7 linked regions of the Homo sapiens genome follow. The protein of the gene in region 5 purifies or fractionates together with the protein of the main gene of each other region. This does not show direct contact. Each region holds a gene or a part of one and is shown on either strand. Other genes may lie near its edges.

What was found.
Region 1: the proteins of TRIO (region 5) and CFAP45 fractionate together in Homo sapiens (co-fractionation; one large-scale study listed by BioGRID). This does not show direct contact.
Region 2: the proteins of TRIO (region 5) and RPE fractionate together in Homo sapiens (co-fractionation; one large-scale study listed by BioGRID). This does not show direct contact.
Region 3: the proteins of TRIO (region 5) and SSU72 fractionate together in Homo sapiens (co-fractionation; one large-scale study listed by BioGRID). This does not show direct contact.
Region 4: the proteins of TRIO (region 5) and EMID1 purify together in Homo sapiens (co-immunoprecipitation; one large-scale study listed by IntAct). This does not show direct contact.
Region 6: the proteins of TRIO (region 5) and EIF2S3B purify together in Homo sapiens (affinity purification with mass spectrometry, with the first as the bait; one large-scale study listed by BioGRID). This does not show direct contact.
Region 7: the proteins of TRIO (region 5) and C1QTNF1 purify together in Homo sapiens (co-immunoprecipitation; one large-scale study listed by IntAct). This does not show direct contact.

The regions. Positions count from the first base shown.
Region 1 is NC_000001.11:159,896,948-159,901,607, forward strand, and holds the start of CFAP45 (cilia- and flagella-associated protein 45), read right to left. Parts: upstream 3,219-4,660; 5' UTR 3,152-3,218; coding exon 3,149-3,151; intron 3,133-3,148; exon of another isoform or gene 3,032-3,132; intron 1-3,031. UniProt on the Homo sapiens protein: Microtubule inner protein (MIP) part of the dynein-decorated doublet microtubules (DMTs) in cilia axoneme, which is required for motile cilia beating.
Region 2 is NC_000002.12:210,019,638-210,023,434, reverse strand, and holds the end of RPE (ribulose-phosphate 3-epimerase), read right to left. Parts: intron 3,767-3,797; coding exon 3,644-3,766; 3' UTR 1,175-3,643; downstream 1-1,174. Other genes in the region: KANSL1L (KAT8 regulatory NSL complex subunit 1-like protein), read left to right, coding at 256-486. UniProt on the Homo sapiens protein: Catalyzes the reversible epimerization of D-ribulose 5-phosphate to D-xylulose 5-phosphate.
Region 3 is NC_000001.11:1,564,560-1,568,733, forward strand, and holds part of SSU72 (RNA polymerase II subunit A C-terminal domain phosphatase SSU72), read right to left. Parts: intron 358-4,174; coding exon 214-357; intron 1-213. UniProt on the Homo sapiens protein: Protein phosphatase that catalyzes the dephosphorylation of the C-terminal domain of RNA polymerase II. Plays a role in RNA processing and termination. Plays a role in pre-mRNA polyadenylation via its interaction with SYMPK.
Region 4 is NC_000022.11:29,226,146-29,230,319, forward strand, and holds part of EMID1 (EMI domain-containing protein 1 isoform 1 precursor), read left to right. Parts: intron 1-344; coding exon 345-406; intron 407-4,174.
Region 5 is NC_000005.10:14,503,342-14,506,841, reverse strand, and holds part of TRIO (triple functional domain protein), read right to left. Parts: intron 2,450-3,500; coding exon 2,249-2,449; intron 1-2,248. UniProt on the Homo sapiens protein: Guanine nucleotide exchange factor (GEF) for RHOA and RAC1 GTPases. Involved in coordinating actin remodeling, which is necessary for cell migration and growth. Plays a key role in the regulation of neurite outgrowth and lamellipodia formation.
Region 6 is NC_000012.12:10,504,051-10,508,945, reverse strand, and holds EIF2S3B (eukaryotic translation initiation factor 2 subunit 3B), read right to left. Parts: upstream 3,057-4,895; 5' UTR 3,044-3,056; coding exon 1,625-3,043; 3' UTR 421-1,624; downstream 1-420. UniProt on the Homo sapiens protein: Member of the eIF2 complex that functions in the early steps of protein synthesis by forming a ternary complex with GTP and initiator tRNA.
Region 7 is NC_000017.11:79,030,403-79,034,576, reverse strand, and holds part of C1QTNF1 (complement C1q tumor necrosis factor-related protein 1 isoform 1 precursor), read right to left. Parts: intron 279-4,174; exon of another isoform or gene 44-278; intron 1-43.

The sequences.
Region 1 (4,660 bases), on a different chromosome or scaffold from region 5:
GTTGTAAAGAAAACAGACTGTAAGAAACGCATAAGGCTGGGTGCAGTAGCTCATGCCTGTAATCTCAGCACTTTGGGAGGCCAAGGTGGGTGGATCCATCGAACTCAGGAGTTCAAGACCAGCCTGGGCAACATGGCAAAACCCCATCTCTACAAAAAATATGAAAATTAGCCAGGCACGGTGGCGTACACCTATAGTCCCAGCTACTTGGGAGGCTGAGGCGGAAGGATTGCTTGATCCCGGGAGGCAGAGGTTGCAGTGAGCCAAGGTTGAGCCACTGCACTCCAGCCTGGGTGACAGAGCAAGACACTGTCTCAAAAAATAATAATAATAAAGAAATACATAAGTATTCTTGGCCAGGCATGGTGGCTCACGCCTGTAATCCCAGCACTTTGGGAGGCCAAAGTGGGTGGATCACCTGAGGTCAGGAATTTGAGACCAGCCTGTCCAACATGGTGAAACTCGTCTCTACAAAAAATACAAAAATTAGCTGGGCATGGTGGCACACGCCTGTAGTCCCAGCTACTCAGGAGGCTGAGGCAGGAGAATCGCTTGAACCTGGGAGGTGGAGGTTGCAGTGAGCTGAGATCACGCCACTGCACTCCAGCCTAGGCGACAGAGCAAGACTCCATCTCAAAAAGAAAAAGAAATGTAGAAGTACTCTTGTAAAGATGTTTGTATGGCAGGTATGTGCCCAGAATGTATTACTGAAAGCATGTTCAAAAAAATGTTTAACAGTATGTCAGGAACCTTTACCATCTTAAGATGTTTCTTTATTGAATAATTTCCTGCAATGAGTAGATACCAATTTTATGACCAGAAAAAAAAAACAATAAAACAATTTTTATTTGAAAACAAAGCATAGCAATGGGCCTGGTGCCCGAACTCTGAAAGCAAGAGAGTACAGACCTAAAAAAGAAAACAAACAAACAAACAAACAAAAAAACCATAGCATTATATATTCTGGGATCCAGAATGTTTCACTCAAATTCAGCAAGACAAAGCTGGAATGGGGCTAGAATAGGTCAGTGTGAAGTTTCCCTGATGTAACTTCAACACCTGTCAACTAAACAGGTTGACATGTTCAGGAAAGATATGTCTTTTCCTAGATGTCTTACCCATTCTGAGATCTAGTTCTTCTTTTGCACAGTCTCCGCAGGCTGGCAAATTCAGGCTTCAAACTCTTGGCCTGGTTCTACTTCCCTTTCTGTAGACTTTGGTTACCAAGAAAGGGAGATTCCCATGCACGAGACCCCTTGCCTTTTACTCTGAGTGATCCACGCAATTATCCTCTTTCTTCAATTGGGACCAAGTTGGCCATCTGTAGGATGCCACCAGAAGATAACATCCTAGTCAGTACTGAGGTCCCCATCTCTCCTTCTGCAGGATTTTAATCATTATTTTTGTAAGAGTTCTGGAAGTCTGCCTAATTGTGACCCTCACCACCACTACTATCTCTTCTCATGCCTTTAAATATTCTCCAAACCTAGTGAGTAGCACTATACGTACACGAACACACACAGCTGGCCTGCCAGAGATCACTAACTTAGACCCACTGCTTCTCAAAGGTGTCTATATGCCCAGTCCTGTCCCAGGAATTACAGAGGGGCTCAGTGAGTGAGTCAAACCCCTGCCCTGAGTGGCTCCTGGATGGGGAATCCCTGATCTGGGTGCTCTGAAGCCCACAGGTCTTGCCCAGGTGCAACTTATGCCCTATGAGAGCTTGGAAATAGGAAATTTTTAAAAGAGGACAAAAGGGGAACTAACATTTACCATATGCCCTTAGACACCAGGCATGACAGTAGGTGTTCACATACATACATACGCCACTGTGTTTGTAAGGTGCTGAGAGAAGATGGGACACTGAATCAAATAGAATACATAAGTGAAAGGGGACGCTCCCCCACCCCAATTACAACACTGCAGGGAGTCCTCGAAAGTCAGGAACTGCTCTTTGTTGGAGACTTATTTAATAATTAACAAAATTCTTCTGAGGTCCACTGAGCCCCAGAAAAGCAATGCAGCCCCTGGGCCTGAAGTCTGTCCACAAGTACATCCAAGTAGCAACCTTTGCCACCTGTTGTGCCCCAGACATTCTAGGTCAGTTCCAATAACCCAAGACTCCAACACTTATCATCTGCCCTTCCCCTCCCCTCTGGGACCAACACACTCAAGCCCAGGCATCCCCTTCATGGTTCCTCCCAGGCTTTGCTGGCCTTCTCAGCCCTCAGTACCCTGACAGCCCTCCCCATCCCAGCAAACCCCAGGCTGCCAGTCCTGTCCCAATCTCTCTCCCGGGCCTTGCAAACCTGAGACCCTCCTCACTCACTCACTCATTTATTCATTCATTCATTCACTGCCAAATATTTATTGACTAACTACTGAGGGATACAAAGCCCTGCTAACAGAAGAAAAACCTGAGGCTCGGGCACATTAGATGACTTACCCACAGTCACCTTGCTAGTTAGTGGCAAAACAGGTACCACGACCCATTATCTGGCCTCCTCACCAGTGCTTTTTTTTTTTTTTTTTTTTTTTGAGACGGAGTCTCGCTGTGTCGCCCAGGCTGGAGTGCAGTGGCGCGATCTCGGCTCACTGCAAGCTCCGCCTCCCGGGTTCACGCCATTCTCCTGCCTCAGCCTCCCGAGTAGCTGGGACTACAGGCGCCCGCCACCACGCCCGGCTAATTTTTTGTATTTTTAGTAGAGGCGGGGTTTCACTGTGTTAGCCAGGATGGTCTCGATCTCCTGACCTCATGATCCGCCCGCCTCTGCCTCCCAAAGTGCTGGGATTACAGGCGTAAGCCACCGCGCCCGGCCCACCAGTGCTTTTTCCCACACCACATCCACAATCTTTGGTCCACAGAGGCCCCGCTGTAATGGCAACGGGGAGAGGGTTGGGGCATCCCTTTCTCCCCAACTCCTCCGCTCAGCGCGCTCCACATTTCCAATCGTTATCGATGCTATCCCTAATTCCTCTTTTGAACCCACCTCAGGATCTCCCTTGCTTCTTCTAGAGGTGTTCTCCTTACTCCTGGGCCCTCCTGACCCCTAGACCCAACTGTGACCTCCCCTAGGCCCCCACTTTCCCCACTCAGAGCCCCCACCCAATTCAGGACACAAGGGGCCCATCTGAGGTTCTCCCTCACCATCTCCTCAGCCACACGCCCTGACTCCGGACTTCTGCTGCCGCCTCGGCGCCGCCAAGGCCCTAGTGTTGACGCGTTACCTTGGCAACCACTAGCCCGCGTTCTTCGGCTCAGGCCCCGCCCCCGGCCCCGCCCCTCCCACCTCCAGCGGGCAGTTGCCTTGTGCTGGTGGCTTAGGAACCGGAGCCCGTCGCTCCAACCGTTGCAGCTCCACGCTCCAGCCCAACCGCGGCTCTGAAGGATTGACCCGCCCTGGCGTGCCCTGCTCTCCACTTTGGCTTTGGCCAAACTTTTCGGTCAGAACCCGAACCTAAAGAACTTACTATGGGCCGAGGGGGTTCTAACTGTCAGCGGCCCCAGGAGCCTGGCCCAGGGTCACAGTTTTCCCCTGGGACTTCACCTAGGTTGCTATGATTACTCTTGCCCCATTGCCCAGGAGGCGCCAAGCCAACCCCTGATGAGTGTAGTCTGCAGAGAAGCCAGCAGGATCAGGACAAACCAGTTCCACAGCAGGAGAGAATCTGGTCGGGTCAACAAAGAACTTCCAGCCCTGAGGATGTCTATGCAGTCTCAAGAGCAGTTTCTTAAATTGCGGGCCTCAAATCTGCAGCTAAGAATCACCTGGGAGAGTTTATTAAAAATGGAGGCCCTACATTAGAATAAGTCAAAAGCTAAGGAACTGACTTTGGGGAGCTTGTCTTTTAACACTTCCTAGCTGGTATGTATTGTTCTAGAAAGTACATAGGGGTTTTGTCATTTTTTCCAATTTGGTTTGGCCTCTCTACCTCCCAACTTGCAGGGCTGGCACTGAGCTCACTTTGGTAGGCTGCATGCTCCAAGCCTCACGAAGCTGTCCCACCAGACCAAGGACATTTGTCTTCCTCCAGTGCTGATTAGCTGATTAGCTAAGCTCTTGGTGTGACTCTGTGAGTCTCTGAGCTGCTTTCTCAAACCTCTCTCCAAACCCTCACAGCCAGTCTTTCTGAAGCTCTTACTCCAACTTGGGCACTGAAGGCTATTCACAAGCCCCGGGGGAATGGAAAGAGGGAGACAAGGTCACTTCTTGCTGCTTTTAAAAGGACTTACTCCAACAGGCTTCACATTCCTTCCCTAGATTTCCCAGCCTTTATCTCCTTTGGGATCAAGAGTACAAAATTGTGTCCCCTGCCCAGTCCCACCAAGTGTTGAAGGCTTAATCAGAGGGAGAAGGGAAGGCCTGAAGAGGAGGAGCACAGTCCCTGGGAGGCTTGGGACTGAGAGAAGGGGCTGTTTTGTTCGTGGGAACCTTCCTTACTAAGCCTTGGCATTAGAACCCCGTTCCCTGCAGCTCAGAAAGAAGGGAAGACAAGTAACCGGCCCACTGTGAATAAGGTGCTTCCTGTATTCACCCCATTCTCCCAGGCACATCTGCATGACATAGTTACTATCCGTGTAACCAAAGAGGAAACAAGCCAAGAAAAAACTGTCCAAATTGAAAATCTATTCTTTTCTCAGCCCAGGGTAACTCTCTGA
Region 2 (3,797 bases), on a different chromosome or scaffold from region 5:
AATGAAGACCACTGCCTATGGCAGCATTTCCTCTTCTTGGCAGAGGCAAAGTAAAGAAATAAATCCCAAAAGTCACTCAACAATTCTCAATATATTCCATTTTGAGTTGCTATTTAAGTTGAAATGAAAAATTGTACATTTATGTGCTAAAGAACAGAACAATTATTACAATATAGACATGTACAGATTACTTGTTAGATGAATTTAAACAAAACAAGTTAGTTGAAACTTAACTGAAAATTTTTCCCCTTTCAGTCTTTGTGGTGGGAACGACGGGCTTTTCCACTGAAGGGTGAAGACATGGCAGCCTTATTATGTCAAGATGAAAAAAAGGATCAGGTTGAAAGGTCAAGCACAGCTTTCCATGGTGAAATCTTCGGTACCAGTGTACCAGAGAATGGCCACCATCCAAAAAAGCAGTCAGATGGAATGGAAGAATACAAAACCTTTGGTCTAGGACTTACTAATGTTAAAAAAAATAGGTGACAGGGAACAGGTTAAGAAAACTATGTAAATGTAGGAAAGATGGGAGGAAATAAAGCCCTGTTCTGGATCCCCCATCCCCTCCAGAATAAGAGCATGTTCTGCATGTATTAATCTTTTATGCTGTTTATGAAACAGGCAAGATAAGTCTGTTTTTCCTTCTGGAACCATAAGGGTAACCAGATTTTCATCTACAGACAAGTGGTAGTCATTTGTGTTTATCATGCAACTTACTTACAAACACCAAGATATTAATTGCTGCAACTTGATGTCAAATCACATTACTGGGTAATTTTTAAGACTATGTACCCACACCATACATACATACATATATATATACACATACATACAAACCTGTGTGCCAAGTGACAGCTATTTTTTTATATACATGGTAATTCATTAAAATTGCCTTAGTAATATATTAGAATATACAAATATGTGTGTATAAAATAAACATACACACACACACACACCCCTATGTAGTTTTTAAAACACTGGCAATGACCCACTCCCCTTGGAAATGCATGTATGAACTACCCTATGAAATGTAAGCTGCAGAATAGATAAAACACAGGTTTCCACTAATAAAAGACATCTGAACGTCCTGAATATAGAGACAGAAGTTTTTTGTTGTTGTTGTTGTTGTTTTAACATGTTTAACCAACAGAAGTTATTTACAGAAATTCATATATCCAGGCAACACAAAACTCCTTTATTCAAAATCACTGCTATCTTTGGGACTAAACACAGGCTACTTTCTGTTTACTCCTAACAAAATAAAGCAAGCAAATTTGAGTCAAATATTGGTGCACTTTAATACTATCACATCTTTGAAAACTCAATTTGAGTTTTACCAATTAATGTGTCTCATGAAGAGAAGACACCAGTTTTAAAATGAGCCACAAACAGTAAAGCCCTATCAGTATAAAATTTGAAAAAAAAAAAAAAGATGATTGTATTTCTAGATTAGCAAGAAATTAGTTAATTCTGGCTGATTTCTATTTCTAGCTAATTTGGTCATTCTTTGCCATAGCTTACTCTATTCAAATAAACATATATTCTTGCTTGCATCCTAGATTGGAAATTAAAATTTTTCAAAGAACAAAGCTTCAATATTGGATACTGAAGAGTATACATGAAAGAAAATTCCTTTTGAAGCTATTAAACCATTTTTTTCCTATGTGAAAGTTGAGGACAATTTATATAACTCACTTTTTGTCATGTAAAAAAGGTTACTCAAGTTGTACTACCCACATAACTGAAAATATTGGCCATTTGGCCTTATCTGTGAGATTTGACACTAAGTTTTTGTTAGAGATTGGAAATTATACTAGTCCTTTTAAGGGGTAAAAAATTCAATTCAATACTGACAAACTTTTGCTTGTAGTTTTACTGTACATTTATTTTTAAAGAAAAAGAAAACAAAAGCCAGACAAACCCAAGTTGTCCAGGCAAATAAACTCAAATCTTTGTCACGTCTGATATTATAATCTTCTATGTAAGTTTTTTAATTAAAGTTATTTCTATATGCCGTGTGTTGCTTGTTATTAAATGCGACGTATTCATGGCACAAAGCTTTCCCAAGCTGAATAAAAACAAACATTAACAAATTTTTACCTTGTAATGCAGGAAGAAACCCAAGCAAGCTCTAGTCTGTGCTTAAGTGTTAGCATTCTTATTTTTTGAACCTTATTTCTCAAAACTTATAGTAGCCTCAAGAAGTCTATTGATATTGGTCATGTTTATTTCTTGCCATATTTATAACACAGCAAGAGTATTTACAGGAATGAAGTAGCTGACACATATTTTTAGACTCTGTATAATTCAGAACAGTTATAAATATTTAGTTTATGGATTGACTCTGTATCCTGTCATCTTTTCGCCTACCTGATCTTTCTTGGAATAAAATAATATATCCTTGGGGTCAAGATCCATAGTTCCAGAATTTTCTCAGCCATCTGGTTCTGCTACAGCGTAAAATTAGACTGGAAATAAGACAACGTTAAGTAAAAAGCTTCTTTTACCTAACCCACCTCCCAAGGGCTCCATTTGTAAAAGTACAGACCAGAAATTCTACCACTTCCCAGATCCTTTCCAGGGTACCACCCTATTAAGCATTAATTTCTTCATTTTTTAAATGGGGACAAAAATATCTGCTTTATTATTACCACTTACTTATAGAGGTGATTTACAGATTTAATGAGAATATATCAAAGTACTTTATAACTCACAAAAATATAAACTTATATAATGCTGTTTACTTTGTGTTGAGCATATTCTAAATTCTGGGACTAGTACTGGAAACTTTACATATATAGTGTTAGCTCTTAATTCTCAACAGAACCCCACAGTTGCTATAATTACATTTAATGTATAAATGACTTTAGAGAAACACAAAAAAGATTGGGTGATTTGTTAAAGGTCCAGCTAGAAAGGGGCAGTCAGAATTCAACCCAATATTACCTCCAAACAGAGGTTTTACTTTTTCCTTTCTACTCAGAGCTAACACAACAGCATTATTTAACGTTCTTAAGAATGGTGGGGAGGAATCACTGAATAACCTGCTTTGACAAAACACCCTGATAAAATCTATGCTTGTATTTTAGAACCCCTGGGTTTCACACATTGTTTTTATAGTTTTCACACATCAAGTGTAAGGTGAAAAGTGATAGATTTTAAGAACCAAGAATATGGTATGCACCCCACCCAAACTTATAAACAAATCACAATAACATGAAATAGAAAAAAACCATAAAGACTTCCTTTGCTTTTGGAAAACAGCTGAGAAACAACAAAATTCTTTTCAGAAGTACAGACAAAATTTGTTTTTGTAGTGTAGCTAATATGCCCTCCTTAGACATTAAGACACTTTTCTGTTTGTAACCCTAATGCAGCCGTATTTTTACTTTATAAAAATCAAATCTCTCAATAAAAACAGTATCTTACTCACTAATCAATAAATTGCATCACTAAAAATGTAGTTATACACACCAATTTCTGACCTCTTAGAATATTCTGCACAATCAGTTTTAATCACTGGAATGAATAACTGCTCAAAAAAGCAGTACGGCTTCAATTGCATTGTGATTTGGTAGTCAATATTCCTGTTTTCCAGTAAAAGGGAGATTTCATGAACAGGAACACTGGGCTCCTTATGGTTTCACCGATCAAGAGAACGTTTCTGAGCAGCTTCTGAGCAAACATTTCTTAATAGATTGATCACAGATCTGGGGTCTTCACTCCTCATAATAGCACTGCCAGACACAATCATGTTAGCTCCTGCCTGGAAGAAGTAAACAGTTAGGTTATGCCTC
Region 3 (4,174 bases), on a different chromosome or scaffold from region 5:
GTGCGCCTCACCACGCCTACTGCCATGGGTGGCACTGGAACTAACCCGTGGACGATCCGACGTGCACCAGGAATAGAAACCAAGCTCTCGCAAAGACAGAGGAGCCAGTGTGTGCACTGCACAGGGTGACACGCCTCCTGTGCCCGAGCCACACGTAACACCTTCCAGGGAGGACCACACGGGGGGTTTTTAAAGGGCAACCCGCTGGGATACAGTTCTTTGTCTTTCCTAAGAAGATCATTGTACATCTGGTCATATGTGGTTTTGAAATCATAAACATTGGGCTTGTCGGGAGCTGGTCCTGGAAGCTTCACGTGAGTCCCTGTTCCAAAGGATCGGACGCTGAATCCCCGTTTGCTGAAAGACAAAAGGAGAGAAAGAATCACAGTCACACTAAGACACAAAATTCCAAAAGCAAGGGACAGCAAATGGGATAGAAACAAAATGAGTAATTTCATTGGCTCATAGTAGAGAATATGTCTTCAAATTTTTAATCTAGGCCGGGCATGGTGGCTCGCGCCTGTAATCCCAGCACTTTGGGAGGCCAAGGCAGGCGGATCATGAAGGCAGGCGGATCATGAAGGCAGGCGGATCATGAAGGCAGGAGATCAAGACCATCCTGGCTAACACGGTGAAAACCCGTCTCTACTAAAAATACAAAAAATTAGCCGGGCGCGGTGGCGGGCACCTGTAGTCCCAGCTACTCGGGAGGCTGAGGCAGGAGAATGGCGTGAACCCGGGAGGCGGAGCTTGCAGTGAGCAGAGATAGCACCACTGCACTCCAGCCTGGGCGACAGGCTGTAGCAAGTTACACAAAAGCAATCAAACCAGAACTGACCATCACAAAGCCACATCTGAACATCATAGCTTGTTTAAGGCTTTACTTTAAACTGAAAGGACTGACTGATGTGGACTTGGGGAAGATTTCATCAGAACATTTTGGCCATCGACCAACGTCCTGGCTTTGGAGGATCCAAGTTCACAGGATTCCTAAGGGACTCACAAAGGTCCAACTGCCCGCTCCACCACAGGAAACTCTGTCTCCCCCAGTTTCCCAACACCCCCACGATGTGGCTCCATGGGAACCGAGACCCAACACCCAAAGGAGTCCCACAGGCTCAGGGTTGCTGCAGGCAGAGAACAGATGCCGCGATGGGTCCGACGGTGCTTGTTCCTTGGACTTCCTAGTCACAGGTGAGGAAACTGACCAAATACTTTTCCTAATCAACTGGAGAAAAGAGCTGAACAGGAAACGTGTGTCATGTGCCACCAATGAGCTCTAGTTCACGCAAGGAGAAAGAGAGGTCGTCTCCAAACACTGATGGAGTGTGGTAAGACCAGAAAATTCTTCTGTCATCGCTGACAAGCACACTTAAGTTTGTCACAACAAGTTACATGTAAAAAAGTTACTTTGGCACCGAGTGCGGTGGCTCACACCTTCAATCCAGGCACTTTGGGAGGCCGAGACAAATGGATCACCTGAGGCTGGGAGTTTCAGACTAGCCTGGCCAGGAGGCGAAACCCCAGCTCCGTTTCTACTAAAAAAAAAAAAAAAATTAGCTGGGCATGGTGGTGCGTGCCTGTAATCCCAGCTACTTGGGAGGCTGAAGCATGAGAATCGCTTGAACCCAGCAGGCACAAGTTGCAGACATTGGAGATCTCACCACTGCACTCCAGCCTGGGCAAAAGAGCGAGACTCTGTCCCAAAAAAACAACAAAAAAAGTTACTTTGGTATAGAACATGTGTTCTTGTAAAGTCACAACTGATACTTATAATTACCTAAAAAATATAGACTTCTCAACCTAGCTTTATTTATAAATCACAAAAGGTTTGCATCTGAAGGAATCTGCCTGGCTCAGGGCGCAGGGCGCACATACACTTCCATTAACACTAAACTCCTCTTACAGGCCTGTCATTCTTGTTCAGAAAAGTGCTGCTGCTTCGCTCTTGAGCAAGAATGACACACAGACACGTGAGGAGTTCCATATTATTTTAAAAAAAGAAAAGTAAGGCCGGGTGCGGTGGCTCACGCCTGTAGTTCCAGCAATTTGGGAGGCCGAGGTGGGCAGATCATGAGGTCAGGAGATCAAGACCAGCCTGGCTAACATGGTGAAACCCCATCTCTACTAAAAATACAAAAAATTAGGCGGGCGAGGCGGCGGGCGCTTTTATAGTCCCAGCTACTCGGGAGGCTGAGGCAGGAGAATGACTTGAATCCGGGAGGCAGAGGTTGCAGTGAGCTGAGATCGCGCCACTGCACTCCAGCCTGGGCGACAAGAGCGAGACCCTGTCTCAAAAAAAAAAAAAAATTACTGAATGTTGAATGAGTAACAGTGTCACAAGAGAGGAAAAACTCAGGCAGAGGGGGCTGCTGGAGTGTAACCAGTCTCTATGCGGATAATGGGGCAACACCCAGCAAGTGAAAACTACCTGTGCCTTTCTCACAGACACTGGCTTCTAGAAACCCGCCCTACGGACATACACGTGCCTCTGCAACATGGCTGCCTGCAGGATGCCCACTGCCGGCCTTCCACAGCCACAAAAGAACAGACAAGTAGAATAATCCATCCATGGGGCAGGACAGGCCATGCGGCTCCACGCGCACCTCCGAAGATGAGTAGAGGAAGCAAAAGAGCCCAAGGGCACCCTGCTGCGCCACCACACACGTCACCCACACACACAGAGAAGATGTGCTCATCTAGTGTACGTGAAACACCTGAGTCCCCTGAGGCTGATGACAGCTGCGTCAGTCCTTACATCCCTAGATATTCCGAGCTACACAACCCGGCTCTCCAAACATCTACCACACACGGCCAGAAATGTGGCACAATAGCAGCGATTCATGACTACAAACCCGTGTTCACGGCACCCGGACTGTGAAATAAACGTGAAAATGCTAAAATTAAAATTCCTGACATTCAGTCATAACCACAGATCCTGACGGAAACATGAGGTTAAAGCAATAAAGTCAACTGTTGGTTGTGACTGAGAGGGTGACGGAGGCCCAGACACAAGGCATACCACAGGGAGCACACGTGAGAAACAACAAGCCTAAAATGACTTCCTTACCAATTCAGACAACATACAATAAAATATGTTCCGTCAAAGCACAAACAAGGGCCGGACGCGGTGGCTCACTTGAGGTCAGGAGTTCGACAACAGCCTGGCCAACATGGTGAAACCCTATCTCTACTAAAAATACAAAAATTAGTCATGGTGGCACACGCCTGTAATCCCAGCTATTCGGGAGGCTGAGGCAGGAGAATTGCGTGAACCCCGGAAGCGGAGGTTGCAGTGAGCCGAGATCGCGCCATTGCACTCCAGCCTGGGAAACAGAGCGATACTCTGTTTCAAAAAAAAAAAAAAAAATCGCACAAAGAAGCCCAGGATCAGCGTGATCACAGCAGCCAAAGGAGACAGCCTGCCTCCCAACACCAACAAGAACTCACCACCTGCTGGACGTTCCTTTAAGTTAGCCTATTTAAAAACAAAATGCAGTTTGTTTTTCCCCCAACAAAAGGTTCACGAATGGCAAAAAGGCTATTTAGCAACAGAAGCAGTATTTCTCCCAAACTGATGCAACCGACAGGGCAGCCAGCTTGCGACTCAACAGCGTTTCTTACATAAAAGCAAGGACAGCTTGGAAAACACTCCTGACACCAACAGGCTTCGCCTGAAGGGCCAACGCCTTTGTAAACTAATCTTCCAGACAAGTATTTGTCTGGTATGCCAAACAACTGTCTTTACAAGTACCAAAAATCTATCAGAGGGCTTGTAATCCCAGCACTTTGGGAGACCAAGCAGGTGGATCACTTCAGCTCAGGAGTTTGAGACCAGCCTGGCCAACATGACAAAACCCCGTCTCTACTTTAAAAAAAAAATAAAAAAATAAAAAAAGCCAGGCGTGGTGGTGCGCGCCTGTAATCCCAGTTACTCCGGAGGCTGAGGCTGGAGAATCGCTTGAACCCGGGAGGTGGAGGTCGCAGTGGGCCCCGTGATGGTGCCACTGCACTCCCGCCTGGGTGACAAAGTGAGACTCTGTCTCAAAAAAACTCCAAAAAACTATCATAAAGAAGCCATCAGGCGGGGCATGGTGGCTCACGCCTGTAATCCCAACACTTTGGGAGGCGGAGGAGGACGGATCACTTGAGGTCGGGAGTTTGAGACTAGCCT
Region 4 (4,174 bases), on a different chromosome or scaffold from region 5:
CTGGAGAAGTCCTCAGCCTCATCCATGGCCCCCGCCCCATTGCCATTTCTTGGCTTCTGGGAAAAGGGTCATTTTGGACACAGAGGCTGCCAGGGGTCAGGTCCCTGGTCCTGCTGCCGGAGAAGCAGGCCACTCTGGAGGCTCCAGTGCCAAAAGGAACCCATAGGGTGAGGTCCCCCTGGACCCACTGTGATCCTATAGCCCTTCCCAAGCCTAAGGTCCCTCGTGGGTTGGGGTCATCAGGTATCTGACGCTTTCCTCCATCCCAACCCCCAGAGACTGAAGGGTTCTGAGGGGAAGCCTAGGACCCTTGGCCCTGGCCCCAGCTTCCTCCCTCCCCGCAGGTTGTCTCAACTGCAGCAAAGTGTCAGAGCTGACAGAGCGGCTGAAGGTGCTGGAGGCCAAGGTGGGTGAGCAGCTCCCTCCTGGGTGGTTGTTCCCTGCCACAGGCCAGTCCAGGCAACCACCATCCCACCCTCCCCACCTCCTTCCCCGCACCCCATGCTCGCACCCTCAGTGAACCCACAGGGCAGCTCTGAACTGACTCGGCGAGCAGCATCCCCTGTCAGGCATGTCATGGTCTCCTCCAGTGTCCCTCCCTAGGAAGCCTGCTCACAGGTCGTGCCTCAGTTTTCCCACCTGTCAAGCGGAGGGGATACTAGCATCCACTCAGGGAAAACTGTATATGTGAAGCGCAAGTCACAGCCAGCCTGGCCTGTTCTTCCTCCAGGAGGCCTGTGAGCTCCCTCCCATGGGGCTCCATCACCATCCCCACCAGATCAGCATAGACACTGCCCAGAGATCCTGGTAGGATCTCCTGCCTGCCCCTGCCCCATCCCCTTTCTCTATCCCCCCAACCCCCATCCATAATACTATCTTCCTGGTTTCAAAAACAAAACATCTATCACACATCTCAAATTATTTCAAGATAAAATGTTGTGTATTTTTTGTTTTGTTTTGTTTGAAACAGGGTCTTCCTCTGTTGCCCAGGCTGGAGTGCAGTGGCGAGATCTCAGCTCACTGCAACCTATGCCTCCTGGGCTCAAATGATCCTCCCACCTCAGCCTCCTGAGTAGCTGGGACCATAGGTGAACAATACCACATCCAGCTAATTTTTAAATTTTTGGTAGAGATGGGGTTTCTCCATGTTGCCCAGGCTGGTCTTGAACTTCTAAGCTCAAGCAATTCACTGTCTTGGCCTCCCAAAGTGCTGGGATTACAGGTGTGAGCCGCTGCGCTGCCATAAAACTTTTTTTTTTTTTTAAATTAAAAAGTACTGCTTGGCGCAGCGGCTCACACCTGTAATCTCCATACTTTAGGAGGCCGAGGCAGGTGGATTGCTTGAGGCCAAGAGTTCGAGACCATTCTGGCCAACATGGCATAACCCTGTCTCTTTTAAAAATACAAAAATTAGCCTGGCATGGTGGCACACACCCATAATCCCAGCTACAAAGGAGGCTGAGGCTTGAGGATCACTTGAACCTGGGAGGTGGAGGTTGTAGTGAGCCAAGATTGCGCCACTGTATTCCAGCCTGGGTAACAGAGCGAGACTCTGTCTCAAAAAAAAAAAAAAAAAAAAAAACAAATTAGGCCAGGCGCAGTGGCTCATGCCTGTAATCTCAGCATTTGAGAGGCCGAGCCGGGTGGATCACAAGGTCAGGAGTTCAAGACCAGCCTGGCTAAGATGGTGAAACCTCATCTTTACTAAAAATACAAAAAATTAGCCGGGGCCGAGTGCCGTGGCTCACGCCTGTAATCACAGCACTTTGGGAGGTCAAGGAGGGCGGATCACCTGAGGTCAAGAGTTCAAGACCAGCCTGACCAACTTGGAGAAACCCCATCTCTACTAAAAATACAAAAATTAGCCGGGCATGGTGGCGCATGCCTGTAATCCCAGCTACTCGGGAGGCTGAGGCAGGAGAATCGCTTGAACCCGGGAGGCAGAGGTTGCAGTGAGCCGAGATTGTGCCATTGCACTCCAGCCTGGGCAACAAGAACGAAACTCCATCTCAAAAAAAAAAAAAAAAAAAAATGAGCCGAGTGTGGTGGCAGGTACCTGTAATCCCAGCTACTTGGGAGGCTGAGGCAGAGAATTGCTTGAACCCAGGAGGCAGAGGTTGCAGTGAGCCGAGATTGCACCACTGCTCTCCACCCTGGACGACAGAGCGAGACTCCGTCTCAAGAAAAAAAAAAGTAATTAATTAATTAATTTAAATTAAAAAGTACAACATTCTAAATTTAGAAACATGAAAAATTCAGAAATGTGAAAAAACAGCCAGCAAACCATTCACAGCAGTTGCCCATGCCCCCAAAGAATGCAACTGTCGACACTTAAGCATCCTTTCTTCCAGATTTTCTAAACACACAGACATGCATACACTTTAGTGCCATTCTTTGCTCCATCATTCCCTTCTCTGGAAATTTATCTTTTGTTTGTTCGTTTTGTTTTGATTCAGAAACAGGGTCTTGCTCTGTCACCCAGGCTGGAGTGCAGGCATTGCAATCTGCCGTGAGTTGGAGCTCACTGCAGCCTCCAATTCCTGGGCTCAAGCTATCCTCCTGCCCCAACCTCCTGAGTAGCTGGCATTACGGACATGTGCCACCACACCTGGCTAGTTTAAAAAACTTTTTTTAGAGCTGGGGTCTTGCTATGTTTCCTAAACTGGTCCTGAACTCTTGGCCTCAAGGAATCCTCCTGCCTCAGCCTCCAGGAGTGTTGGGATTACAGATGTGAGCCATTGTGCCCAGCCTGGGAACTTAATGAGATTATCAGATGCAAAAATGTTTACCAATAGAGAAATTTGAAAACCAGGCAAAAGAAGGCATGGTTGTATAATTGTGGAGAATTCATTCTATGGGGCATTCAGCAGCCATTTACAATACTTCCCTTCCCTAATATGAAAAGATTTCTCTAGGCTGGGCATGGTGGCTCACACCTGTAATCCCAGCACTTTGGAAGGCCGAAGCAGGAGGATTGCTTGAGGCCTGGAGCCCGAGACCAGCCTGGGCAACATAGCAAGACTCCATCTCTACAAAAAATTAGCTAGGCTTAGTGGCACACAGCTGGCACACAGTCCCAGCTGCTTAAGAGGCTGAGGCAGGAGGATCACTTGAGCTCAGACGGACAAGGCTGCAGTGAGTCGTGATAGCACCACTGCACTCTAGCCTGGACGGCAGAGCTAGACCCTGTCTCTAAAATTAAAAAAAAGAAGATGCCGCTGGGCGCGGTGGCTCATGCCTGTAATCCCAGCACTTTGGGAAGCTGAGGCGGGCGGATCACATGAGGTCAGGAGTTCGAGACCAGCCTGACCAACATGGAGAAACCCCATCTCTACTAAAAGTACAAAATTAGCCAGGCTTGGTGGCGCATGCCTGTAATCTCAGCTACTAGGGAGGCCGAGGCAGGAGAATTGCTTGAACCTGGGAGGCGGAGGTTGCGGTGAGCCAAGATCACGCCATTGCACTCCAGCCTGGGCAACAAGAGCAAAACTCCACCTCAAAAAAAAAAAAAAAAGAAGATGCCCCTGATTTATCAAATGGGAAAACCAAGCTTCCAAATAGCGTGTGCTGGCACCTGAGTTACAAGGCACGGGGTTCCAGGAGCAGTTCCCTGAGCTCCCTCCCAGGAGAAGCCCATGTAAGAGGCAACTCAGTCCCACATCTTGATGGGAATTCCTGGTTCAGGATCTGCCAGAGAGTTTCAGCTTTTCTCTGGACAGGCCCCCACGATCCCTGAGCCCCTGATCTGTGGTCATCTGGCCTTTCGTTGGTCCTCAGCAGCTGAGGGGACACTTCCAGCTTCCCAGAGTCTTCCTCACCATGGGCCCAAAAGTGGACTTTGTGTACACCTCCAGGTTTCTATTTCATGTCAGACTCTTCCAAACTTCCTTCCAAATTTAGTGAAAGGCCGGGAGTGGTGGCTCACGCCTGTAATCCCAACACTTTGGGAGGCTGAGATAAGCAGATCACTTCAGGTCAGGAGTTTGAGACCAGCCTGGCCAATGTGGTCAAACCCCATCTCTACTAAAAATACAAAAATTAGCTAGGTGTGGTGGCGCATGACTGTAATCCCAGTTACTCTGGAGGCTGAGGCAGGAGAATCACTTGAACCCGGGAGGCGGAGGTTGCAGTGAGCCGAGATCGTGCCACTACACTCCAGCCTGGGCAACAGAGC
Region 5 (3,500 bases):
GCCCGGCTGCCGGCAGTGCCAGGTGCAGCAGGCATCCTGCGGTATCTGCTGAAGGAAGGCAAGTAGCTCATGCTTCTCGGAGCTGTAGTTTCCTCACCTGTAGAATGGGCCACGGGAAGACTCACCGAGATCATGTAACCACAGGCTGGGCAGGAGGTGACACACTGAGTGCTCAGTGTTGGACTCAGAAGACTTCCTCCTCTGAAACTACTGTTCATACTAAAAAAACACTTACCCAGCACTGCCAAGTGCCAGGGGCTCAATGCCTTCTAACAACTCATTTAATCCTTATGACTCTCTGTGAAGTGGGCCTTAGTGTACCCATTTGATACACGAGGAAACTCAGGACAGAGAAAGCATGAAACGTTCCCAAGGTCCCACAGCTCCAGAGTGGAGAAGCCAGGATTGGACTGAGGTGGTCTGGCCCCCACCTCTCTCAACACCGGCCTATGCTGCTCTCTTTGCAAAACAGAAATCTGTAGGAAGATCAGCTGCCTGTCTAGCAATGGGGAGTCGCCGGTGAGAACAGGAGTAATCTGTCATGAAAACGGATCCTATTAACAGGATGGTGAGGCCAAACCATTTTGTTTCCCAGAAATGACAGCTGAAAGCACTGAAATGTCAGTCCAGAAACGAAGGCCTTTAGGAGATTTGTGACAAGCACTCAAGCCACAGTTTTGTTAAAACTCCCCAGGGAAGGTGAGCAGTGGCCATTGGTCACCAGCGTCTGGAGCCAGAAAGGAGACCTCCCGGGTCCTGAGGCTCCCAGGCCAGGCCTCGGCTTGGATGTCGGCTCGGCTCTTCCACACACATCGCCCCATCTCGGCCCCACGACAACCCTCCAAAGCCAGTGTGACTTTTAAGGACACCAGGGTGAGAAATGAGCCGATGAGAGGGAGGGCGGGGACTGAGGCCAGGCGAGGCCAGTGGACCTCCTCTCCATACACACTGCTCAGCCTCACTGCGCCCCACCGTCTGCCCTTCTGCCATGAGATGTGTTTTCTATTCTTGAAAGACGGGCTGGAAGCACGTCCCCATGTGCTGGGGGAGGTTCTAGCTGTGCAGCCATGGGTGGGAGGCCTTCCTGAGACACCCACTGTCACCCATGGCACATGGGCGGCCCGAGGAAGCTGGTAAGGCTGCATGTGGGGCCATGTGGGACGCTGTGGCAGCCTTGCCCTAGGAAGGGTATGGGGAGGCATTTATAGTTTCTTTAAGAAAAAAATGACAATAACTACAACATCAGGTACAGGGCCTGGAGGGAGTTCCTGCCGGCGAGGGGCCCCGAGCTTGAGTCTGCCCCTACATGACCCCATGGGGGCGCCCTGCTAATCCTATCCTTCCCACTGAAGAAGCTATGCAAACTTCCCAAATGGTGACAAAAGGTTTTACCCTTCCCCATGGAAAAGCAGCTGTAAATGCAAGTAAATGTATAAAATGACTCCCCCTAAAAAGGAGGAATCGACATTTTTCAAAGCTAAATGCACAGATGTTTGGGGTGGATGAATCCATGGGGGTTGTCCCTGCCTTGCAGGAGGTTGGGTGGCATCCCTGGCCTCCGGCCGCTCCCTGCCGGACTCACCCCCAGCCTGAGCTCTCCTGACATTTCCACGAGAACCCACCCCTAGATGAGAACCGCTCCTGTGGGACACAGGTTTCAAACTCTTTTCTTGACGTGACTAAATTATTTTCTGATCTTACACAGGAGCCCAGTAAGTACAACGGGGACCAGAGGGGCAGCTCTGGTTGGTGTGCCCGCGCCCCCTCTTCGGAGGACATTCTGCGGGGAGGTGCGTCTTACCCTCCCATCCAACTGGCCTTCACTTGGCAGGAGGCCTGAGGGGCACCCCGCTGATCCGGGGTGAGCTGGCCCTGCACAGGCTTGGGGTATCAGGTCAGCCTCCAACCACTAATGGGGGCTTGGGTTCAGCACCAGAGACAGCCTGGCCTCATGGGACCTTCAGAAAAGGGGTGGGGGGGGTGCATCTCCGGGTTGGCTGAGCATATCAGGTGTTCCATCCCAGCAGTGACTGCCCTTCATCAGGCAACCGCCCTGTGGAAGACCACACTGCTTTCTGCCATTACTGGAAGGCTTGAAAACTGCGGGCTCTGACAGTGAAGATGTTTTTTAGTTCTGTAAATTCTACAAACCCAATTTCTATCCTTCTTAGAGAACAAACAGGAACAACAAAACCCCCTGAGGTGGAGGCAGAGGGCTGGGCAGAGGGAAGGCCAGGTGTGTACGCACATTTCTAAGACCAGGATGTAGCTGGTGGGGGTCTCAAAGGTGTCGAGGAGGCCGACAAGCAGGGGGTGCTGGAGGCTCTGCAGGATGCCAAGCTCATGGGTGACCTGGTCGCGCTTCATCAACTTCTTGTTCACAAACTTAGTGGCCACTGCTCGCTTGGTTCCTTTCTGATCACATTTCTTAACGACAGAGAATCTGCCCCTGTAAAATATGTCAGGGGGACCATTTGCAGAGGCTGCTGAGGTCTGGCACCGAGAAAGACTCTGTTATCCTAAATGGACTGGCTGTGTGGTGGCCCAGCCCTGTCCAGAGGCCCTGCTCTCCCGGCCACTCCACGGAGGGGCTGTGGTGCCATGGCTGTCCCCCAAATCTGCCCTTGTCCCCGCAGCCACGCGGTTCTGCTGGTCCTTCCTCCCAGGCAGCCTTGGTCTCCTCACGTCGGTGGCTGCTTTCCCAGCACTGCGTGTGGTGGAAGTGACAGAGGAAGACCTCTGAGCCTTGGCCTTGCCGGGCGACTCCCTTCTGCTTCCCACGACGAGCAGAAGCTGGGATGGCTGCTCACGCCTCCCGTCAGCCACCTTTCCCTGCACGTTTGAAAGGTGCGTCTGCTGTGGTCACTGCCTCAGCCTCGCCCCTGTGGGGGTGTGTGGGGCAGGCACGAGGACCCTGGAGCTGCCCCTGATGACCCACTCCTGGGGACTGGCCACAACTCAACGCGATCTGGACGAGGCCTTGGACCTCAGGTGGGGGCCTGGGCTGGGGGCCTGAGGTGGGTGAGTGCATTCTGCACATGTGAGGACCAGAGATGCGCCTGTGGCGGGCAGACTGTGTGGTTAAAGGCCACGGTTTTGCTACTTCTGTCACTCGGAGGCGGGGGCTATTCGTCCCCTTGAATCAGGGCTGCCTGGGGCTGGCTCTGGCCCACAGGATGTGGAGGACGTTGGTCGTTCTGAGGCTGGGCCTTCAGAGGCCTTGACGCTCCTGCTCCTGCTGTTCTGGGATGCCACTGCCCTCACGTGGGGGAGCCCAGGGTGAAAGTCGATGTGGAAAGAGGCCAGTGTCCCAGACAACGCCTCTGACACGCATGGGGCATGGTGCACCAGCTGACCAGGCCAGGAGAGGCCAACAGAATAATGGTCCCATCTGCCCACTGCACTGGAAGAAGGCACATGTCACCACTGTCCTAAGACAGCATGTGCTGGTGTGACTTTTTATGCAGCCACAGACAGCTGACAGAGACAGCAACAGGAGC
Region 6 (4,895 bases), on a different chromosome or scaffold from region 5:
TTTGAAGGAGGTCAGATTTTATCTGACGGTTCTCATGTGCTTTAACATATAAGAGATTTTAACAACTTTTCTAAGAATTTATATACACATATGTACACGCAAGTTTTTATACTTAAATCCTGTATATGAAGAATTTTTTTTCTATGAGTCTATGGTTTCATAACTTTAAAAAGCAGAAAAATTTTAATTTGCCCTACACTAACAAAAGAAAAAATTTGATTATTCACATTTATTCCCTTAAGCTAATAAGGGAATATATTTTAATGTTATATATGGAGATTAATATTACTTTAGGTCAGCAGGAGAACCCAGGGATGTATAATCACAATGCCGTCTTCAGGGCTGGTTAAAGTTTGAATTACTTTATCAGAAGAACATGATAGAAAATATATTTTCTTTTTTTTTTTTTTTTTTTTTTTTGCTTTCTAACATCTTTTACTTATTGACCTTTTGAAACATCCAAAAATTAGTAATATTATAATCTGTGTCACAATCATATAACAGTTAAGAAAAAACATAAAATGAAGGCCTAGAAGGATCTTTGTTACTCATCTAGAATTATTTGGTATAACAGTATTTTCCAATGGAGGAAGACTATTGGATTTCAGGCATAAAACAATGCAGAAAAACATCTCAAGGCATCACAGGGAGAGGGAGATAACTTCTGACTCTAGTTTCCCGTATTTCAGGCCAGGAAGAGCAAGGGGAGAAAATTATTTGCCCATGGGAACAAGTAATCATGCTCTAAAGGACAATTTCATTCGAACCCATTCGTGCATCCTTTTCATGCAATTCGAACCCATTCATTGCATCCTTTTCATGCAAAATTTCAAAGATAAAGCAACATAAAATATGGGGCCAAAGAAAAGGGAGAAGGTCTTCAAGGATAATTTGTGCCTTTAAGTTTTTACTGGTACAACAGTCCTTCAGCCTGGAGGTACTCAAAGACGAATCATGAAAAACAAAAAAAAACTTTATTTCGAACAGTTTCAGTGATATATGTGTGTGCTACAGCAAAGGCTGGTTGTGGCAAAGTTTCATTTCAAACTGCATGATGTGGGCTAGGCAAGGTGGCTCACGCCTGTAATCCCGGCACTTTGTGAGGCCGAGGTGGGCTGATCACCCTGAGGTCAGGAGAGACTGGCCTGGCCAACATGCCGAAACCCCGTCTCTACTAATACAAAAATTAGCCCCGTGTGGTGGCACACACCTGTAATCTCAGCTACTTGGGGGGCTGAGGCAGGAGAATCGCTTGAACCTGGGAGGCAGAGATTGCAGATCATGCCACTACATGCCAGCCTAGGTGACAAAGCCAGACTCAAAAACAAAACAAAATAAAACAAACAAAAAAACTGCATAATGTATAATTTTGACATTATGTGGGAATGCTTAACTTCTGCCAAAATGTAGATTCAATCCAACATTATGCCAATTTTTATACTAATTGTAGTCCCTAAGTTTTCATAACCAAAAAAAAAAAGAGAGAATAACCTTACCGTTACCTACTAAGGTAACAAACTGTGAAATCAATTCCCCAATATCGCTTTGAAAATAAACCCCTTGGTTGTTAAAGAGAAATTGCAACTTCCAGCTCCATCCGAATGTATTATTTAACCGGTATTCTTCAGTCATCATCTACTGTTGGCTTGATTGTCACTCCTCTTCTTATCTGACCCCAACCAATTAAACGCCAGTGTTTTTCAACTCTTCGGCTAAGGGCAATTTTTTCTCCTACCTCTGTGCACACTGGATTGGTCAAAACAATTTTGCCCAAATCGGCCTTGACAGCACTAACTCTCCCTCCTGTCGACAGGGATCCTATGTTCACCATGAGCACTTCATTCTTAGACAGCTTTTGAACCTTTGCTGCTTTCTTGTCTCCTTCAGTGCGTACACCTAGAAGCCGTCTAAGCAGGAAATAGGAAATTTCCAATTCTGTGAATATCTCAGGTAAAGCTCCGACTGCACCAAGTATTTGCCCCACCATTCTGTCAGCCCGGCACAAAGTGGGGTCAATTTTTGTTCCAACTCCAATAAGACCGCCTGGAGCAGCATATTGCAGATCATTATGCTCCGCAAAAAGTGAAACAATTTTGGAAAAGATTGATTTACACATGAGTTTTCCTTCACTATCTTTGGAAACAATACCAGGTCTTACTTCTGTCTCCTGGCCCACCTTTAATACTCCTTTTAGGATACTACCACCAGCTACACCTCCCTTAAGGTCATCAACTTCACAGCCAGGTTTGTTGACATCAAAAGATCTAATAACAATAAGCCGGGGCTCTGAAGTAAAGTCTCTTGGGGGTACTGGAATTTTCTTTACTATGTACTCACAAACAACTTCAATATTGTATTTCAGCTGAGCCGAAATTGGAATAATGGGAGCTCCCTCTGCTACTGTACCTTGGACAAACGCAAGGATCTGCTCGTATTGTTCTTTAGCCTGCCTTTCTTTTACCAAATCAATTTTATTTTGTAGAATCAAAATATGCTTCAGTTTCATGATCTCTATAGCAGCCAGGTGTTCAGATGTCTGAGGCTGAGGGCAAGATTCATTACCAGCTATCAACAGAAGAGCTGCATCCATCACTGCTGCACCGTTCAGCATAGTAGCCATCAAAATATCGTGGCCAGGACAGTCAACAAAGGAAACATGTCTGACTAATCTGAAGTTCCCTTTGGTTCCTGGAATGTCTGTAGGAAACTCATCAGGCATACTGCTCCCACAAGATCGATAACATTCTGGCCGAGGGCAACTTGGGTCATCAAGTTGATAAATCTTAGCATTAGCATATCCAAGCTTGATTGTAATATTTCTTTCTAGTTCATTTTTGAACCTGACGGTGTGAACTCCAGAAATAGCTTTGACGACTGTGGATTTCCCATGAGCTACATGACCAATTGTACCTATATTAATTGTGGCTTGTCTGCTGATAACTTCGTGTGAAAGTGGCGTCAACTTGGTAACATCCAAGGTGGTGAGATCCTGACGCGAAAGGTGCGGCTGCCCCAGAGTCACCCCAGCTTCTCCGCCCGCCATGTTGCCAAAAGAGGAAGAAAGTCACCCCGGCTGCCGCCTGATCGTCTGCAGGGGTCCTAGTGCGGGGCGGGGATGCGGAGGCCGGAAGGTCGACTAGGGTCTCAGGATGGCCGGTGCAGCAGCGGCCTCAGTGCTTGGACTTCTCTCTGCTTGAATCTGCACAGTGCCTGTCGGTAGGCTTACTGGAAAACACGGTGCAAAGTTGCTGGAGCTATTCGTCGCAGACTTGGTAGATATTTGTGCAGGCAATACTGAGGGCAGCCACCCAAACCCCCGCCCCCTGGGCCCATGCGAGGCGGGTCGAAAATATATTTTCAGTTGACCACAGATAAATACTTAAAAAATTAATGGACCATTGTAATCTATTTATATGAAAATGGATCTTGTATATACAGCCTGCTATTACATTTCTAAGAAGACACAAAACCAGCAACACACTGAATAATTCTACACTAAATATTTTTCTTCTTTAAGAAGATTAATTATTAATATATTTATTTTTTGTTCGAAACAAATAGCTATGTCGTGGTTTATATTATAATTTTCATTTCTTCAAATTATGTTGGAGTGATGACCATTAATAGATGCTATATTGGAGATTTATTACAATAGCTTTATTGAGGTATAGTTTATATACAAAAAAACTGTGCATTTTTAACGTATACAATTTGATGAGTTTGGACATATGCATACATTCGTAATACCATCACCCAATGAAGATAGTAGGCATGTTTATCATCTACAAAGTTTTTCTTGAGTACCTTTATTTTGGGAGCAGAGGGCAAGTAAGACACTTGACATGAGATCTACCCTCCTAGCAGATTTTAAAGTGATCAACGTATTGTTGCTAACTATACGTACTATGTGGTACAGTATATCTCTAGAACTTATTCGTCTTTCGTAACTGAAACTTAACCAATTGAAAGTGAGTCCCTGGTAACCACCATTCTCTGTTCCTATGAATTTGACTACTTTAGATAACTCATATAGTATAATCATAAAGCATTTGTTCTTCTGTGACTGGCTTATTTTATTTAGCTTAATGTCCTCAAGGGTCATTCATGTTGTCATGAATGGCAGAATATTCTTTCTTTAAGGCTGAAGAATATTCCATCATATGTACATACTACATTTTCTTTATCTGTTCATCTGTCAGTGTACATTTAGGTTGTTTAAATATTATTTATTCTTGATAATCCTACCATTGATGTGGGAGTGCAGATATCTCTTCAAGATACTAATTTTAATTCTTTTGGATATACTGTATACCCAGAAGTGATATTATTGGGTTATATGGGTAGTTTTACTCTTAATTTTTGAGGAAGCTCTATACACCTTTTTCATAGTGCATTCTTATCAACAATGTGCTAGGGTTCCAATTTCTTCACATTCTTACCAACATATATATATATATATATATATATATATATATATATATATATATATCTTCATATATATGTATATGGATATATTCGTTTTAAGGAAGAGGGTAATAAATGAAAGTGAGAGGATGGCTCATCTCCTTCTTCTGGGTATATATGAATGAATATATGGATATGTGAATGTATCCATATATATATATATATATATATATATGTAAAATAGTCATCCTAACAGGTGTTAGGTAGCATCTTAGAATATTTCCCTAATGATTAGTGATGTTGAGCATTTTTTTATATACCCACTGGCCACATGCATGTCTTTTGTGGAGAAATGTCTATTCAAGTCCTTCATCCATTTTTTAAAATTGGGCTATTTTTTGTTTTTGGTATTAAGTTGTAGAGGTTCCTTATATATTCTGGACATTAATACCTTAACAGATATGTTATTTGCAATGTTTTCTCAAATCTAT
Region 7 (4,174 bases), on a different chromosome or scaffold from region 5:
CTCCCATCTTGGAGCAACTGCACCTTCACCAGGAAGGACTCACCTGGAGCGAAGAGTGGGACTCAGTGTAAATTTTTGCCCAGGCCCTGCAAACAAGGAGGCCGCATGAGCCGTCAGGCATCGGGCCTTCGGGGCGCTTGGCCAGCCCAGCCTCCAGAGCTCCGATTCCGTCCCAGTGGAAACAAAGATTTCCTTGAGTAGAGCAGCTGTCCTCAGCTCACCTCCCAGCTGGAAGGCCTCGGGCGGCAGGCTTGCCCCTGCTTTGAGAACCGTGTGAGAGAGAAGAGGCACCAACAGCTGTCCTGAGCCCACTCTGCAGGTGGCCTGGCCCGCCGCCCACTTCCCTAGCACCAGCAGCGGGGACGCCCTCGGGGACCGACCGCTCCCAAAACAGAGGGAGGAAAGAACCTGGGAATTCTATGGCCTGGTGCCCCGTCGCACCCAGCCCTTTACAAGCAGCACAAACGTATTTGGTTGTCTGGGGCCTGGACAAGCCCCAGCATTTTCCAGGCAGCTCCTGAGGAAGCCTGGCATAAGACAGGGCTTTATCCCCAGCCTGGGGCTTCTAGGTCAGGAATATAATCAGCACAGCATCCCACTGGCCCTCCTCCTGCTGGCCCCGCCCCGACTGCTTGGCTACGATCACCCACGACCCTCGTGGCACCCAACACCCTTCTGCATTCCTCTTTCGTGCGCACTGTAAGCATCTGCCAATGTCGACTGCCCTCTTCTTCAGCCATGGGGTTTGGCCCACACTGTCTCCCAGTGTTTAGCCTTCCTGATCAACCCCCAAAGACAGGTGCTCTCCCAGGCTGTTCCTCAGCTCTCAGCTCCTCTTGCTCCTAATTCTACATTTATTTATTTATTTATTTAGGAGACAGGGTCTCCTGTCACCCAGGCTGGAGTGCAGTGGTACAGTCATGGCTCACTGCAGCTTCAAACCCTTGGACCCAAGTGATCCTCCCATCTCAGCCTCCCGGGTAGCTGGAACTACAAGCACATGCCACCACATCCAGCTAATTAAAAAAAAAAATTTTTTTTTTTTAGAGACAGGATCTCACTATGTTTCCCAGGCTGGTCTCAAGCAATCCTCCAGCCTTGGCCTCCCAAAGCGGGTAGGATTATCAGCGTGAAGCCACCGTGCCTGACCTCTTTCTGCCTGTCCTGGTCCACACCACATCTTCAGCTGACAATGCCCCATTCCATGTCCCCACCACTGACCTGGCTGCTGAGACCTGGGCTTGCAAATGTTTAAGTCAGTACAGTGGCTACGAGCCACATGGAGCTATGTCAGTTAAACAAAATGAAACATCCAGTTCTCGGCCAAGGAGCCACATTTTAAGTGCTCACGTGACTAGCAGCTGCCATACTAGACAGCACAGCTCTTAGCACCTTGCACCACAGCTGAAGGTTCTGCTGGGCAGCGCTGGTCTAGACCCACATATGCAATCATCTGCTGAACACCTCCTCTTTGCTCTGCGCTAAGACTTTTTTTTTTTTTTTTTTTTGAGACAGAGTTTTGCTCTTGTCACCCAGGCAGGAGTACAATGGTACAATCTTGGCTCGCTGCAACCTCCGCCTCCTGGGTTCAAGCAATTCTCCTGCCTCAGCCTCCAAAGTAGCTGGGATTACAGGTGCCCACCACCACGCCCAGCTAATTTTTGTATTTTTAGTAGAGATGGGGTTTTGCCATGTTTGTCAGGCTGGTCTCGAACTCCTAACCTCAAAGCGATCCACCCGCCTCGGCCTCCTAAAGTGCTGGGATTACAGGTGTGAGCCACCGCACCAGGCTGCTCTGCCCTAAGGCTTTTAAGCCCCCAATTAACTCATATCCTTCTCCCCCGTCCTTACCACATTAGCTTCTCCTCCTGTGGCTTGCAGCTTGGTGAAAGCTATGCATGCCATCACGCGGGGTCCCGGGCCAGAAGCCTGCAAGCCACTTGGATGCCACCTTCCTTGCACCCGCCACATCTCATCCATCGCCAGCCCCCTGCAGGTCTCCTCTCCTCTCCATCACTTCTTCCCCAGCCCTGGCTGGTTTTCTGCCTCCCATCTGTCTCCCACGCTGCTTCCAGAGGCAGCTCTGAAAAACGCAAATCTGAATGCCACCCCTGGCTCCAAGGGCTTCCTATGCCAGTAAAGGAGGGAGTAAGCCCTGAGCGTTTCCATCTGGCCCTTCCCCACCCCGCGTGAGTCCCTTTCAGTCCAGCTCCCTGGAGCTACTCAGTCCCTAACAGATCACACTTGAGGTCTCGTCCTCTGGCACCCGCTCTTTCCTCTGTCTGGATGCCTGTTTCTCCTCCACCTTCTCCATCCGTGTATTCTCCAGAGCTCAGCCTGAGGCCACCTCCTCCGGGAAGTTGCCCAGACCTGGGTGTGCTGTAGGTGCCCCTCCCCCAGCATCCGGACGAACCGGTCTACAGTCCTTGGTTTCCTCGTCCTGTCCCCAAGACTCCAAGCCCCTGGGAAATGGGAGCCCCATCTCATTTCTCAGGCATCACCAGCATCCGGTGTCTAACTCTCAACAGGGCTCCAATGCTCTCCTCACCTTCAATCAATCCCAAGTACAGAGCCATCGTCCAAAGATGACATGCCTCAGCCACAAGCCTGTCCAAATCTCTCTCTAATTCCAGCTGGGGACACAGAGATCCAAGGTACATCACTGTCACCAGAGTGCTGACTCCTGGTGTGGCCATGTAGCCATCTTCCCTAGAAACGCTCCTCTTATCTGCACTCAGAAAGTCTATTGCTTCAAAGAGATGAAACCACTGCCTCCATTCACCAAGGTTACAAACCACCTACATGTCCAGGAAGACAGTCTAATGAAATACATGGCTGGGTGCAGTGGCTCACGCCTGTAATCCCAGCACTTTGGGAGGCTGAGGCAGGCAGATCACCTGAGGTCAGGAGTTCAAGACCAGCCTGGCCGACATGGTGAAACTTTGTCTCTACTAAAAATACAAAATTTAGCCAGGCATGGCACATGCCTGTAATCCCAGCTACTCGGGAGGCTGAGGCAGGAGAATTGCTTGAACCTGGGAGGCGAGGATGCAGTGAGGTGAAATAGCACCACTGCACTCCAGCCTGGGTGACAGAGTGAAACTCCATCTCAAAAAAAGAAAACAAAAAATTTACAGTGCATCCATCCATATGATGGAAACTAGAAAAACAAGGTGGTTGATGAGAGTGGTGAAATCAGCAATAGGGAGGGATGGGGATTGTGGTAAACCAGTAAACGCGTTCTTTCTAAAGACATTTAAAGAAATAATATGGGCTGGGCACGGTGGCTCACGCCTGTAATCCCATCACTTTGGGAGGCCGAGGCAGGCAGATCACGAGGTCAGGAGATGGAGACCATCCTGGCTAACATGGTGAAACCCCGTCTCTACTAAAAATACAAAAAATTAGCCGGGCGTGGTGGCAGACACCTGTAGTCCCAGCTACTTGGGAGGCTGAGGCAGGAGAATGGCATGAACCTGTCAGGTGGAGCTTGCAGTGAGCCAAGATCATGCCACTGCACTCCAGCCTGGGCGACAGTGCAAGACTCCATCTCAAAAAAAAAAAAAAAGAAAAGAAAAGAAATAATATGGAGGGACTGGGGAGCAGAATCAGCCAGCAGCACCAGTTAGGCGTCTCTGTAAATAGGTGAATATTTACTGACATGGAAAGATGTTTGGGCCGGGCACAGTAGCTCACGCCTGTAATCCCAGCACTCTGGGAGGCCGAGGCAGGCGGATCGCTTGAGGTCAGGAGTTCAATATCATCCTGACCAACATGGTAAAACCCCGTCTCTACTAAAAAGTACAAAAATTAGCTGGGTGTGGTGGCGTGTGCCTAAAATCCCAGCTAGTCGGAAGGCTGAGGCAGGAGAATCGCTTGAACCCAGGAGATGGAGATTGCAGTGAGCTGAGATCACGCCACTGCCCTCCAGCCCGGACAACATAGCAAGACTCTGTCTCAAAAAAGAAAAAGAAAAGAAAAGAAAAAGAAAGGAAGGAAGGAAAAGAGAGAGAGAAAGAGAGGAAAGAAAGAAAAAGAAAGAAAGAAGAAAGAAAGAAAGAAAGAAAGAAAGAAAGAAAGAAAGAAAGAAAAAGAAAGAAAGAAAGAAAGAAAGAAAAGAAAGAAAGAAGAAAGAGAGAGAAAGTTTGTAAAGCAGTAATGAGTTTTGAAAATG